4 linked regions of the Homo sapiens genome follow. The protein of the gene in region 1 purifies or fractionates together with the protein of each later gene. This does not show direct contact. Each region holds a gene or a part of one and is shown in the gene's direction. Other genes may lie near its edges. The genes, in order: CDHR2, TBCD, TMTC2 and HIP1R.

The links.
Region 2: the proteins of CDHR2 (region 1) and TBCD purify together in Homo sapiens (affinity purification with mass spectrometry; one large-scale study listed by BioGRID and IntAct). This does not show direct contact.
Region 3: the proteins of CDHR2 (region 1) and TMTC2 purify together in Homo sapiens (affinity purification with mass spectrometry; one large-scale study listed by BioGRID and IntAct). This does not show direct contact.
Region 4: the proteins of CDHR2 (region 1) and HIP1R purify together in Homo sapiens (affinity purification with mass spectrometry; one large-scale study listed by BioGRID and IntAct). This does not show direct contact.

Annotation. Positions count from the first base shown.
Region 1 is NC_000005.10:176,587,272-176,590,858, forward strand, and holds part of CDHR2 (cadherin-related family member 2 precursor), read left to right. Parts: intron 1-1,759; coding exon 1,760-1,911; intron 1,912-2,058; coding exon 2,059-2,167; intron 2,168-2,256; coding exon 2,257-2,345; intron 2,346-2,806; coding exon 2,807-2,875; intron 2,876-2,981; coding exon 2,982-3,059; intron 3,060-3,153; coding exon 3,154-3,214; intron 3,215-3,291; coding exon 3,292-3,416; intron 3,417-3,587. UniProt on the Homo sapiens protein: Intermicrovillar adhesion molecule that forms, via its extracellular domain, calcium-dependent heterophilic complexes with CDHR5 on adjacent microvilli. Thereby, controls the packing of microvilli at the apical membrane of epithelial cells.
Region 2 is NC_000017.11:82,923,014-82,926,600, forward strand, and holds part of TBCD (tubulin-specific chaperone D), read left to right. Parts: intron 1-638; coding exon 639-720; intron 721-1,925; coding exon 1,926-2,044; intron 2,045-3,386; coding exon 3,387-3,478; intron 3,479-3,587.
Region 3 is NC_000012.12:82,685,646-82,689,705, forward strand, and holds the start of TMTC2 (protein O-mannosyl-transferase TMTC2 isoform 1 precursor), read left to right. Parts: upstream 1-1,260; 5' UTR 1,261-1,941; coding exon 1,942-2,024; intron 2,025-4,060. UniProt on the Homo sapiens protein: Transfers mannosyl residues to the hydroxyl group of serine or threonine residues.
Region 4 is NC_000012.12:122,848,889-122,852,475, forward strand, and holds part of HIP1R (huntingtin-interacting protein 1-related protein), read left to right. Parts: intron 1-986; coding exon 987-1,067; intron 1,068-1,946; coding exon 1,947-2,023; intron 2,024-2,347; coding exon 2,348-2,409; intron 2,410-3,587. UniProt on the Homo sapiens protein: Component of clathrin-coated pits and vesicles, that may link the endocytic machinery to the actin cytoskeleton. Binds 3-phosphoinositides (via ENTH domain).

The DNA of each region.
Region 1 (3,587 bases):
ACCCCATCTCTACTAAAAAATACAAAATTAGCTGGGTGTGGTGGTGCATGCCTGTAATCCCAGCTACTTGGGAGGCTGAGGCAGGAGAGTCACTTGAACTCGAGAGGCGGAGGTTGCGGTGAGTCGAGATCACGCCATTGCACTCCAGCCTGGGCGACAAGAGTGAAACTCTGCCTCAAAAAAAAATAAATAAATAAATAAATTATTGGAGCCAAGTCATAAAAAGGCTTTCAGCTGTTTATGGTGTTGGATGTGGCAAGTTTATTAGGGGTGGTGGCCATGCCGTGTGGGGATGAGGCTTCCCACACCACCGAGGGCTGGGCCTGGCTGGGCTTCTTACTGACCTGGAGAGCTGCCTACCCTCTCTGGGACTCCGTTTCCCTGTTCAACAAGAAGCTAGCAGTTCCCAGAAGGTGGCATGTGGGTGCCATTCCCTATGCTTTGGAAAGGACATGGGTACAAGAGATGGACAGGGCTGGCCTTCCCCACTTAGAGCCGAGTGTAAGGACAGGGTCTCTCGGAGCCTCAGCTTCCTCTTGTAAAATGGGGATAGTAATTCTCCCTCTCTAGGTTGACGTTCATGCTAGAGACAGTGACTGTGTGACTTTCAAGTCTTAAGACAGCTTCCCAATCTTCTGCCAATTTGGTTCTAATGTCAAGAGTTTAGCCACGGCAATTTTCTTTAAATAGATTCCTTTTTAAGACCTAAGCACTGGTGTTGGCCTATCCTTAACAGTAACGTTGGTGAACTCGAAGCTCTGTGTGCTGGTTAAATTTTTCTCTAAAAGGCACTAGAATGAATAAAAATGCTTGTGTCCCCTCCCCAACCAGCTTCATGGTCTACTAGGGGAATTGGTACTCCCCGCACGGAAATGAGGGATCCCAGGGGAGGTGCTTAGGAAATCTGAGCATCGCTGTGTGTGTGCACGCCAGTGTGTGTGTGTCTAAGTGTGAATGTGTGTGCCTGAGGGTGTGTATAAGGGTGAGTGAGTGTATGTGAATGTGTGTGACAGTGTGTGGGTATGTAGGTGATTGTGGGTGTGTATGTGTGTGACTGTGCAAGTGTGTGAATGTGTGTGAATTGAGTGTATTTGTGTGAGTGTGTGTGAATTGAGTGTGTGGTGAGTGCATGAGAGAGTGAGGGTGTGAGTGTGTGTGTCAGGATAAGTGTGTGAGTGTGAGAGGGTGTGTGAGTGTATGTGAGTGTGAGAGGATAAGTGTGTGAGGGTGTGTATGAGTGTGTGCATGTGTGTGAGTGTGTTAGGGTGAGTGAGTGTATGTGTGAGTGGGACAGTGTGTGAGAGTGTGTGTGAGGGTGTGTATGAGTGTGTGTGCATATGTGTGTAAGTGTGTGTTAGGGTGAGACTGAGTGTGAGTGGGACAGTGTGTGAGAGTGTGTGTGTGTGAGAGGGTGTGTATGTGAGAGAGACTGTGTGTGTGAGTGTGTGTGTGTGAGAGAGAGAGAGAGTATGGCAGTGGAGGGGTGTAGGGGGAGCAGGGCAGGATTTCCACATGTGAGGGACTTAGGGCAGTGATCTGTTTGGAGTTGGGGAACAGGGGCAGGTTCTTGTCCAAATCTGGATTTGCAGAGCAGACACACTGTTTTTTGAAACCATTTGCTTATTCGGGGCAGCGTGGGGATGGCGGATAGAGACGGTGAGGGCCAGCCTCCCAGGCCACCCTTGCCTCTGATCCCTGCTGGGGTGGAGGGATGCCTGGCCTGGCTGGGCCCCCAGATATTGTCCACTCTTGCTCCCAGGCCAGAGACGATGATTCAGGGAACAATGGCGTCATCCTGTTCTCCATCCTCCGAGTAGACTTCATCTCTAAGGACGGGGCCACCATCCCTTTCCAGGGTGTCTTCTCGATCTTCACCTCCTCCGAGGCCGACGTGTTCGCTGGGAGCATTCAGTAACTGCGGGCGGCCCCGGGAGGGAGGTTGCGGGGAGGGGCCCGATAGGAGCTTTCAGGCAGCAAGTCCCCCATCCTGGAGGTTACAAGGGTCCTGAGGATTCAGCTTGGGTTCCAAGACTGACCTGCGCCTCCCGCCTTCCGCAGGCCGGTGACCAGCCTCGACTCCACTCTCCAAGGCACCTACCAAGTGACAGTCCAGGCCAGGGACAGACCTTCCTTGGGTCCTTTCCTGGAAGCCACCACCACCCTGAATGTGAGTGCTGGTCCCACCTCCAGCCCCCAACGCCCTCTGCCAGCCCCCAGGGTCCCTGGTGCCTCATCTCCTGCACACCCCCTTCCCAGCTCTTCACCGTGGACCAGAGTTACCGCTCGCGGCTGCAGTTCTCCACACCGAAGGAGGAGGTGGGCGCCAACAGACAGGCGATTAATGCGTAGGTCTGGGGAGCCCCGGAGGGAGGGGTAGGAAGAACAGGGTGTAGGAGCCTGGTCCCCGACAAAACCTGGATGGGATGTCTCTCAATCCTGTTCCTGACCCACATTTGACCTTGTCCCTGTCTTCAACCCTGTACTTTCACCTGCACGACGTTCTTGCATGTCCCCAGAAGCCCATACCCAGCCAAGGGCAGAGGGAAGCCTTGGAACAAGGCTGCCGTGTACAGTTGTGAAGGCTGTGTGTTGCACAAGGGCACTCTGCTTGCTAAGCTATTCACCCAGCCCCAGAGGAAGGGATTTCCTTTTGTAATTTTCACAGAGATGCTACCTACTCAGCCAACAGAGCTGTCCAGAGGAGGTGCCCTTTCTCACTCATACAATTCTTAATCCCACTGGCACAGCCCTGGCCACAGGCCCAGGCTAAGACCCCAGGCCTCTGTGACATCTGCCTTCTTTGCAGGGCTCTTACCCAGGCAACCAGGACTACAGTATACATTGTGGACATTCAGGACATAGATTCTGCAGCTCGGTGAGTGCCCAGAGGCCTGGGGGTGGGGTTGAGGGGGAGAAGCGGTAGCAGGAGGGGCCTGCTGGGTGATCCAGGCTCCTGACTCTTCAACTCTGTCCCGCTCCAGGGCCCGACCTCACTCCTACCTCGATGCCTACTTTGTCTTCCCCAATGGGTCAGCCCTGACCCTTGATGAGCTGAGTGTGTGAGTGGGGCTGCCCTTGGGGCAGGTGTGAGGGTGAGCAGGAAGCCTGGGGTGTGCCAAGGTCCCTCGGGCCTAAGTGGAGTTCTGTGGCCAGGATGATCCGGAATGATCAGGACTCGCTGACGCAGCTGCTGCAGCTGGGGCTGGTGGTGCTGGTGAGTGCGGGCAGGGCGGGGCAGCAGGTGGGGCTGCTGAAGACGAGTGTGCTTCCCTCACACTCATCTTTCTCCAGGGCTCCCAGGAGAGCCAGGAGTCAGACCTGTCGAAACAGCTCATCAGTGTCATCATAGGATTGGGAGTGGCTTTGCTGCTGGTCCTTGTGATCATGACCATGGCCTTCGTGTGTGTGCGGAAGAGGTGCGGCTCCCATTGCCCCCGTGTCTCCAACCTTCACCCTCTCCCACCACCCAAGACGTCGGGGGGTAGGGGTAGAAGGAGCTGGGGCTTAGGCACAGGTATACATGCATTCACTCCCCAGTGACCCAGTGCGAGATCTTGGGTGAGTCACCTCCCCTCCACGGGCCTCAG
Region 2 (3,587 bases), on another chromosome or scaffold:
TTGGGATGGGTTCCCGGGGGTCTCCTGCTGTCCGGCCCCAACTCCTGTTCCCAGTGCGCCCCCGGAGCCCTGTCTCTCTAAATGAGGCTGACGTGGCTTGGCCTGAAGGCCCTGCCCCGTTACTCTGGGTGCATAGTGTATGCCTTTTTCTTCATAACTATTTCTGGGAAAGAAAAATATGCTCCATTTTATTATTGTTCCATATTAGAAGACAGACATTGTGGAAGGAATAATCAGGTTATCCATTCAGTTTCTTAGTTGTAGTGGTAGTAAAGTGATGCGTGTATCTGACAGATGATGGTGAGCAGGCGTGCTGGAAAGGAGTAGCATGACTTAGGGGTTCTTTTGGTTTGGTTCGAAAGTCATTGCTGTGCCGAGATCTCAGGGTGACCCGCTGTGTCCCTGGTCAGGTCCTTCTCTGACCTCAAGGGTGACCTGCTGTGTCCTTGGCCGGGTGCTTCTCCAACCTCAGGGCGACCCGCTGGGTCCCTGGTCAGGCAGGGGCTGCTCTGACCTCAGGGTGACCACGGTGTCCCTGGTCAGGTGCTTCTCCGACTTCAGAGTGACCTGCTCTGTCCCTGGCCGGGGGCTTCTCCGAGCAGAGCTGCTGTGCGCTCACCGTGCTGCCTTTGTTTTAGGATGCAGCAGTCTCGGCCCTGGCTGCTCTATGCAGTGAATATTACATGAAGGAGCCGGGGGAGGCAGATCCCGCAATTCAGGGTGAGTGGGGAGCCCTTTTCTTGAAGACTCCAGGGGCTTCCAGCAGGAAGCTGCTGGGGAGTGTCTGGGCACGGAGGAGGCCTCGGTTGTGCAGTGGAGCAGAGCCACCACGATCATGGCTGGAGTGGGACTGTTCGGGTCTCAGGTTCCCAGCCGAGGAGCTGTGGGCAGGTCCTGCAGCTGCCCAGGATGTTGCATCAGCTCTGAACAGGTGGCTCAGCAGGGACGCGTCTCTGTTGACGGCACCCTCTTGCTCCATCACCCAGGCTGGAGTGGTGTGGCGTGATTCGGCTCACTGCAACCTCTGCCTCCTGAGTTCAAGCAATTCTTGTGCCTCAGCCTCCTGAGTAGGTGGGACTACAGGTGCCTGCCACCATACCCGGCTAATTTTTGTATTTTTAGTAGAGACGGGGTTTTACTGCATTGGCCAGGCTGGAATCGAACTCCTGACCTCAGGTGATCCACCTGCCTCAGCCTCCCAAAGTTCTGGGATTACAGGTGTGAGCCACTGCACTCGGTCAGTGTTTTTAGAATTTTTGTATGCACCGTGACATTTTTCTGCTGTGTGTTTCACTCGTTAATACATTTTGCTGTTTTTTCCTTCTTTATGAAAGTAGCATTAGGCTGGCTTTACGCCGTGTCCCGTGCGTAGCTGCTGTGCCGCCTCACTGTACATCCTGCACCCCCGTGCTGAAGTTCAGGCTTGCTTCTCGCACATCATGTTCGAGGGATCTGCTTCATGAATCGTACTTTTATTTTTAAAGTGTCACATGCACATATGTTGGCCCACAGTGTTCCTTTATGTCATATGATAGAACATGCATTATTAATCACGTCAAAAGTGTGTGAATCACCACTTAAAATTATTATAAGTATATAAAAATCATGCATTAGCTTGGCATGGTGGCACACACCTGTAATCCCAGCTACTTGGGAGGCTGAGTGTGGGGTTGAGGCTGCAGCGAGCTAAGCTTGCACCACGGCACTCCAGCCTGGGTGACAGAATGAGACTCTCTCAAAAAAAAAATTCTCTTTCTGATTCCTATTTTGAGGTAGGCCACTTTGGAAACGTGTCTGCTTTGGGAACCTCAGGCGGCTCCTCCTTTGTTCACTGTGGCTTTGCTCCTGTTTGGGGCACACGTCGGGTGTGGCTGTACACGATGGGCAGCAGAGGGCCTCTCTTCACACTCGTTGCTTCCTTTCAGAGGAGCTGATCACGCAGTACCTGGCTGAGCTTCGGAACCCCGAGGAGATGACTCGCTGTGGCTTCTCGTTGGCCTTGGGCGCCCTTCCAGGCTTCCTTCTGAAAGGCCGGCTCCAGCAGGTGAGGCTGGCCACGCGCAGTGGACGGGGCCTAGGGCGAGGGTGTGGGAGCCTCGTGTGTTGGGGCATGAGGTAGGCCCAGCCGTTAATAAACCCATCAGTGCTTGTAGCTGGGAGGGGGTTCCTGGAAACCGGCACCTGTGGCCAGGAGGAAGGGGGCAGAGGGCACCCAAGGTCTGTGGCCCCTTAGGGCCCTGGCGAACCCTTTGCTGTCAGAGGACAGACTTGAAAAAGCTGAATTCTGGGAGGGAGGAGAAGGTGTTGTTTGTAGAAGCAGCTGCCGAGAGTGAGGAGAACACAGTTGCCTTTGTGCGTTGTGGAGCCGGGTCCTGTTTTGGTTGCGGCCGTGCATCCTGCATCCAGGTCGGGGCAGAGGTGGTTCCACGTCCTCCCAGAGGTCAGCCCCACGCTGGCCTCAGTGACCTGCTCTCTCACGCTTTCCTGTGGTGCTGGTCCCACTGACCAACCTGCCGGGAACTCCTGCTTGTCTCCCCTCCGGCCACCTGGCGTCTGAAGCTGGAATAGGCCCTGGCCACTGGGTTCCCCACGCCCTTCCCTCCCCATGGGATCCAGCCTTGGCACTTCAGGATCTGCAGCTCCAGACGGACTCCTGCCTGTGTGGCGGGTGGGCCTCGCAGCCGCCATGCCATCTAAAACTCGCATGTGGGGGTTTATCCAGTTGAAACACAGATAAATGTGAAACAGGATCACTTGGAGATATGACAGATGAGGTTGTCGGGACCCAGCAGCTTCCTTTGTCAATACCCCAGGTCTCAGCGTAGGACAAAAGGGGGGGACCTCAGGTAGGGTGTGGCCAGACCCCCAGTGACACCCTGGGGTGGGGGCTGGCCGTGGAGAGGCTGGAGGTGACCTCTCCCCGGGTGTCCTTCCTGGGTTGTACTGGGGGCCGTGGAGAGGCTGGAGGTGACCTCTCCCCGGGTGTCCTTCCTGGGTTGTACTGGGGGCCGTGGAGAGGCTGGAGGTGACCTCTCCCCGGGTGTCCTTCCTGGGTTGTACTGGGGGCCGTGGAGAGGCTGGAGGTGACCTCTCCCCGGGTGTCCTTCCTGGGTTGTACCGGGGGCCGTGGAGAGGCTGGAGGTGACTCCTCCCCGGGTGTCCTTCCTGGGTTGTACTGGGGGCCGTGGAGAGGCTGGAGGTGACCTCTCCCCGGGTGTCCTTCCTGGGTTGTACCAGGGGCCATGGATGGCCGTGAGGAAGGTGGTGCCAGGAGCTGCCTATCTCATGGTGTGGGGTCTGTGGCTCCGGGCCAACATTGCCACCTCCCTAAAGAGTGCACTTTGTTATAGCTTATGGTTCTTCTGTGATTCTTTATTGCTTTCCAGGTTCTCACAGGTTTAAGAGCAGTTACCCACACTTCCCCCGAGGACGTAAGTTTTGCTGAGTCCAGGAGAGACGGCTTGAAGGCCATTGCGAGGTGAGTCCCAACAGTTCCTCCCTAAAGTCGTAAGTCTCTGAAAGGCCAGCAGATGAACGCTAAGGGGGATGTTTTTGCTCAGAGGCAGGACTTATGATTCTTCACTTCC
Region 3 (4,060 bases), on another chromosome or scaffold:
GATTTCTCAGATTTCCTTGTGAAATCAGGGAAATATGTAGCTTTGTTCTACAGAAGCCCAGACCACGGTATTTTCTTTCCAGGCCACTGCTAGACACCCAGGGGGCTCAATTTCTTGCCACAGTTTCGGAGAGCTTGCTGGTTAGGTGCTGCTCTTGGTTGGAACCAGTCGGCCCGCATGCAAAACAGACCTGTCTTCCACACCTTGTGGTTACTATGCAGCAGGGGGCGCTGCAGTAGTGTACATCGCGGTGCACCGGAGCTACTCTCCTGGCCAGAAAGCCAACAAGCCGGGAGGAGGCGTGTCAGGCAGCCCTGGGTCCTCTTTGGTCTTGCAACTTTAGTACCCAGAGCTTGTTCTACACAGACCATTCTACACCATATTTCACCATGTTGGATGCTTTCCATCCAGTCCTGCCTCCGAGCGGAAAGGAAAGGGCATTAGCTTACTGCCTTACTAGGTTTAAGTATAATGCTGTACCGGCTTGCACTAGAGGTTTCTCTCCTGTGTTCTCAGGGTCAACCCGACAGTCCCTCTGAAACCACGAAGGGGTCCCCGGGCAGTTGCTGCGGGGTGTGTGTGTGTCTTTCTTTCCCTTTTTGGGGTCCTTTCTTTTTAACCTTACTGAAGGAGGAAACGTTTCTCTCCCTACACGTCTTTCCACTGACATTGTGGCCAACCGTAGGCTAAGAGCTGAAATCTCTCCTTCCTAAGTTGCCTCCAAGCTCTCCAATACTACCTCCTCCCCCCCATTTAGTCTCACACACAGTGTGCGTGAGAGATCGCCAGTGAGTTTGTGACAACCGAAGCTGCAGCAGTCGCCAAACCTGTTCTTCCTCTCCCGGTCTCAGAAGTCTCTCCAGCTGACCGGACTTACGCCTGGCAGCTCTTGGCACACACAGCGCTGTGGCTGAGATTCAGCCGTGCCAGGCGCTGCCAGGCAGCAGCGGGGCGACCGACCACCTCCTCCTCGACCTCCTTTCTCCCAGCTTCCCCTCCCAGGGTGCACTGTATCTACTCCTTTGGGCTGTCTTCCAGCCGTCGCCCTTGGGTCCCGGGGGCTTTCCAGAGTGAAATCGAAGGTGAAAGAAACAAGAGGACGGGAGGCTGGTAGGAGGAGCCTCCAGGCCGGGGAGGGTGGGAGGAGCCTCCAGCCCGAGGGGCAGGGTAGGAGGAGCCTTCCGGGAGGATCTGGGTGGAGAAAGGGGCTGGGCCAAGCCGGGATGGAGGGTTGGTCACGCAGGCGCGGGGGGCCGCGTCGAGAACCCCACGCGGGAGCTTCTGGAGTCTCCAGCCACCGCTTCTCACTTCACTGGAGAAGGGAGCTGGGGCTGGGGCTGGGGCTGGGGCTGGGAGGGAGCTAATAAACATTGAATGTGCAGCAGCTGCCTTGGCGGCCGGAGTCCGCCCGAGCGACACCGGAGCAGTGCGCCCGGGAGGCGGCGAGGGGAGGCGGTTCGCCTTGTCCCTCCCACCCGCGCCTCTTTCTCTCTCTTCCTCCAGCTGGTCCCAGAGCCCGGCTTGGTCCGGTCCCTCTGCCCCCATCCCGCACCCTTCCACCTCCTCCGAGTCCCACTCCTCACCTAGGACGCCCCAAACTGCCATGGGTTAGGGTGGGGATCGCGACCCGCGCGAAAGACCAGCCCTGCGCTTCCGCCGGGGGACGCGGAGCCCAAACGCCGCTCACCGCTTGCGGGCGCCGGGCATGGGGAGTGTGGTGTGAGCCCGCACCCGGGGAGGACGCAGGAGCTGCGGAGACGGGCGCGAGGAGGAGGAGAGGAGTCGTGGATTGGAAGGACCCGAGGGAGGGAGGGTGGGGAAGCGAGGGAAAAGTGAAGCTGGGAGGAGAAGGCGGCGGAAGGTGGAGATTGATGCTTCTGTTTTTTGTTGCCGCTGCTGCCCTCGCGCTGGGAGCCGAGCCGGAGGGAAGGCGGTGGAGAGATGATTGCAGAGTTGGTGAGCAGCGCTCTGGGGCTCGCCTTGTATCTCAACACCCTGAGTGCGGATTTCTGCTATGATGACAGGTAAGGGGCCGAGAGGAGGGGGCGACGGGCTGCAGGGGGCACACTCCGCAGTGGCTCTGAAGCTTCCCTCTTTAAGGCTCAAAGTGCGTCTTGGAGGAACTGGTTCAGCACCTGATGGTTTAGGCGACACGTAAACATTAACACCTAAATCAAACACCGGGGACGTGAGGCGCGCTGGGCGGGCCGAGGGAGTTTCCGCTCCTAGTTTGCAGCAGGTTCTCTCCCTTGCTTCTCGGCTGTTGGCAGACGCTTGAGTTTCTTAGCGGAAATCCCGGCAATTTGGGAAACTGTTTAATGAACGTATTAAATTAAAGTCTTAGGTATTCCTTGATGCAACAAAGCACATTAAGTGATTTTACGTCTGGTTGGGAGGAAGCCTCTCCTCGATCCCTGATAGATCCTCCCTGTCCCGTTTCCTTTTATTGATGGGACACTTTTATTTCCCGAAGTTAAAACACACGTTTGATAGTTGCCAAAATTGTGAAAAGGGAGATCGTTCTCTGCTTTAACTTTCCCTTTTAACGTGTATAGACTTTTACTTTGAGCCAAAATAATGCTGCTGATGGTCTCTCCCGCCGCCCTAGCCTCCTTCACCAATCCATTGGGCAGCACTTTATAAAAGCCTCGGCTTTCTCATTTCTGTTTGGGAGTTGTACATTAGATGTTAGTGGTTCTTTTGTACTAATTGGAGAAGAAGACGCCCCTAGAGACTGAAGTTGTCTTCTGCACTTAGGTTAGTTTGGGTGGCTAATGAGACCTGAACTGTGTTGTCAAAGAAACTGCATCGATTTCTGGAAAATGTCACCGTTGTGTTGGTGTCTCTTCCTATCTTTTAAACGTTATTAGTGTTCAGAAAGTGATGAAAAGCCCCTATATCCATTAGGGAAAATTCCAATTTGTGTCCTTCCGGTGTCTTAATCTGATTACAATTAAAACAGATGCATAATTAAAATATATTAGGGATAACAGCACGCCTGGCTAAACTTATTAACCGTCCTGGGGTGTTTCATGCTCCATTGAAATTAAACCATCCAAAAAGTGAGCACAGATTTACTTTGACAGCTTTTCAGCAGCCTCTCTGAGCTATGAAAAGTGAATGGATCCCCAGGGTTAGGGCGAGGCAGTGAGAGCACTTACGCAAAGTGGTTGACAGTGAGGGGAGGTGAAGGCAGAATCTTCTTCTCGTCGTAATTAGCCACATTCTGTATTCTCTGGTGTGCCCATTCTCCTGCTAAAAGCATCTTCACATCTCTGTTAAAAAATCACCTGATAATAGGTGCCAGAACATCCAGCAAACCCGTCTTAATGCATTTTATGTAGTGCCTACCAGAGGCTAGTTGATAGGGAACCACTGTTAGACATACATTTTTTCTTAACTTTTACGCAGCATACTGATTTTAGCAACTACACAGCATGCTCTGAGAAATGGTCTGTAGGAGTGAGGTAAATTTCTGTTCTCTCCAATTTTGTGTAATGGTGCACCTGCTATTTCTAGCATATTCGTGGAAAAAGCCCTTGTTTCCAAAGATGGGTGACTTTTCACTAAAACCAGCTTGGGTCAGTGTGGGCAGTTACTGGCTCTGTTGGGGGCGGTTTGAATAGTAAGCATTTAAACCAAGAATATAGAGTTTATTTAAAAAAAGAAACTTACTATAATAATGCAACTTGATGGGTGACTTTTCACTAAAACCACCTTGGGTCAGTGTGGGCAGTTACTGGCTCTTGGGGGCAGTTTGAATAGTAAGCATTTAAACCAAGAATATAGAGTTTATTTAAAAAAAGAAACTTATTATAATAATGCAACTTGTTATAGAACACGGTGGTGAATCAAGTATTCCTATTGTATGCCCTTGTTCATTGCTGTCTAATCCTTAAGAAAATACACATCAGAAGAAGCCATTCTTTAAAAATTAAGGTTAAATTTGGATATGCATTTTTCTATAGGTATAATTGTTCTGTGCTCTTGAGTCATCAGAAGTGTTAGGACTGGACCTTGTAACTTGGAAGAATGGTGTGAGTGTGATGATAAATTAGTT
Region 4 (3,587 bases), on another chromosome or scaffold:
GGGCTTTCCTGAGCGTGTGGGGCTGAGCGAAGGGTGGCTCCCTGTGGGCAGTTCCCTGCGGGTGGCTGGGTTTTCCCAGGGGCGACAGTGGGAGGGGCAGCACGGGGAGATGCTGCCTGCCTTTGAGGGCCTGGCCCAGGGCGCTCCACACGCATAACCAGTGGGCCCTCCAGCGTCGAAGTCACCCGGGCCCTTTAGTCCTCACGAGTTGGGAAATGTGGCAAGACCACAGCCCGGGCACCTCGGTGGTTAGAGAGCCTGTGGCAGGGCGCAGGTTCCTGGGCTCCCCCAGACCTGCTGCTGAAGAATCAGGACTGGAGGTCTGCATTTTGAGCACACACACAGTAAGGCCTGAGAGCCCTGGGGGGCCTGCAATCTGGATGCACTGCAAGACCTCAGGAGTTAGAGATGTCCCTGGTGGGCAGAGGGCCTTGGCCTGGTTCTCTCTGGAGCACTGTGGGGTGCTCGTCTGCCTGGGCAGGGACATAGGAGCAGGGCAGGCCCTGGACCGGGTACCCACAGGGAGGCCTGACCAGGGCGTTATCCAACCCAGAACCACTGCCCGGACTCACTTCCCTTGAAGCGAGGAAAACACTGCCCATGGTGCCACCTGCAGATGCAGGCCCAGCTGGCCCGGCCGCAGGGGCCGTGGGGCTGGAGGAGGGAGCAGGGAGGATGTGTCCAGGCGCCCGTCGGGACGTGCCTCCCTGCCAGCACCAGCACTTTAATAAAGCGTCCCTGCTCAGAACTGGCCTGCCGCCCTGGACAAAGAGCTCTCTTCTCACAAGAGTTTCTTTGGCAGGAATGACAAGGAGGAAGATTAAGGGAAAAAGCTAGAGACAGAGAGGGTGGTTGGTGGAGGCCAGGAGAAGACGTTTGTTGAATGAAGAAGTGCCCGGTGGTGGGTCACTCTCGTGCCCAGGTCCTTGAGGACTCTTGGACGTGTTCACGAGCCGTGGCCCCTCACCCTGTCTGTCTTCACACAGGGACATTTGCATGACCGCTACGGACAGCTGGTGAATGTCTACACCAAGCTGCTGCTGACCAAGATCTCCTTCCACCTCAAGGTGGTTTCCTCGGGGGAGTCATGGGGCTGAGGGACCCGTGGGCTTTTCCCACTGTGACGTTATGGCACATGTTGGGACATCGAGGGTGGGATCTGTCCTCTCCATGAGTCTTTCCATTCACCTTCTTGTCCCAACTATGACTAAAGGGGAGACGGGGAAGCCAGGGCATCACGAAGCTCCTAGAACACTTCAGGCATTTCCGTGGACGTGGGCACGGGCTTCCCCAGGCGTTTCTGTGGACATGAGCGCTGGGCTTCCTCAGTCTCTGCTGTGCTGGCCGGGTGCTCCCCTCCTCCCAACCCCTCCACTGCCCTCTGCCACCTATGTGGGCCACAGCCTGGGTCTGCCAAGAGCAGGGTCCAGCGTGGGGCCCCCTGGTTCAGTGGCCGCTGGGTTGGGGGGGCCCTGGTTCAGTGGCCGCTGGGTGGGGGGGGCCCTGGTTCGGTGGCCGCTGGGTTGGGGGGCCCCCTGGTTCGGTGGCTGCTGGGTGGGGGGGCCCTGGTTCGGTGGCCGCTGGGTGGGGGGGGCCCTGGTTCGGTGGCCGCTGGGTGGGGGGGGCCCTGGTTCGGTGGCCGCTGGGTGGGGGGGCCCCCTGGTTCGGTGGCTGCTGGGTGGGGGGGCCCTGGTTCGGTGGCCGCTGGGTGGGGGGGGCCCTGGTTCGGTGGCCACTGGGTGGGGGGGGCCCTGGTTCGGTGGCCGCTGGGTGGGGGGGCCCCCTGGTTCGGTGGCCGCTGGGTTGGGGGGCCCTGGTTCGGTGGCCGCTGGGTGTGGGGGGCCCTGGTTCAGTGGCCGCTGGGTGGGGGGGAGCCCTGGTTCGGTGGCCGCCAGGTGTGGGGGGGCCCTGGTTCAGTGGCCGCTGGGTGGGGGTTCTCTCCACAGCATCCCCAGTTTCCCGCGGGCCTGGAGGTGACAGATGAGGTACTGGAGAAGGCAGCTGGGACCGATGTCAACAACATGTGAGTCACTCTGCATGGCTACATAGCCAGTTCCCCTCGGCTTCCCCATTCCTTCCTACCGCGTCTCACGCCCAGGCGTCCGCATGGGGCAGTGGGGTTGAATGAGTCCGTGGCTTTGTTGGTTGATGCTCACGCTCCCAGGGACAGAGGGTGAAGTTAAAAGGGTGGGGTGTACTTGAAGGACTGTCGTCCTGGCAGAGGCACGCTGTCTCACCAGAGCCATGGTGTCGGCGGTGCCCCCGTCCCCACTGGAGGGGGCGTCTCAGGACGAGTGGGTGGGTCCACCCACCCTTTTTCATTTCTTCCCCCACTTCTCTTGCGTAGCTTCCAGCTCACTGTGGAGATGTTTGATTACATGGATTGTGAGCTGAAGCTTTCTGAATCAGGTGAGCCGTAAAGAGGGGATGCGGGGGTCTGAGTGTATTGCTAAGTCCCCAGAGATGGGACGAGAAGAAAAAAGAAGACATGAGTGATCAGACCAACTGATCACTATGAAATGACCCTGGCCAGCCGCAGTGGCTCACATCTGTAATCCCAGCATTTTGGGAGGCCGAGGCAGGCAGATTGCTTGAGGTCAGGGGTTCAAGACCAGCCTGGCCAACATGGTGAAACCCTGTCTCTACTAAAAAAATATAAAAATTAGCCAGGCGTGGTGGCGCACGCCTGTATTCCCAGCTACTTGGGAGGCTGAGGCAGGAGAATCACTTGAACCTGGGCGGCGGAGATCATGCCGCTACACTCCAGCCTGGGCAACAGAGTGAGTCTCCGTCTTAAAAAAAAAAAAAAGAAAAAGAAATGCCCCTGCCCCTCCTGGGGTCCCTGCACCTCCAGGGATAGGTAATGGGGCCTCCTGGCCCCTCCAAAGCATGGCAGGCCCCAGCGGGTACATCCAGGATACAGGTTCAGCCATCTCTTCCATCCAGTGAGTGTCACTCCATCAGCCCCAAGACAGGGAGGGTGAGGAGGTGTGCACAGGAGCCACCTTGCCAGGTTCCTGCCCCAGCCTTGGGCCATCTGCAGAGCCCAGCTGGAAGAAAGGTTTGGGTCGTCCTGCCATTTTCTGCTCTAGAAAGCCTCTGAGTCACGTCAGACTTCCTAGCGAGGGAACCCGGCCGCTGTTGGACAGGAAATCTCAGAGGGCTCAGCTTCCAGGCTGGAGAACTGATTGTTCTGGGTGGCAGCTTCAAAACAACTCATGGGTGACTCAGTGCTCTCCATAAGAGGGCAAGAAGCAAATGCCTCCTTAAGGGAAAATTGGGAGTTAGAGGCAGTTTGGGCAGCCTCCCTGAGTCCCCAGGTCTGGCCAGTGCAGCTGGGCGAGCCTGATGGGTATTCAGTTCCAGTGGGTGGGAGGTGGGCTCAGAGTTGGACCCTTGTGCCTGGGAAGAGCCTGCTCAGGATCTGACATGGAGAGCAGAGGGCAGGTGTCCAAAGGTGTGGCCCCAACTGTGCAGCAGGACAGGGCTACCAGGCTCTGTGTCCTGGCAGAGATGTGCTGAGCCTGAGCCTCTCAGCACAGAGCCCACCAGGTAGGAGCCAGTTACCCCTGGCATGGGAGAAGGCC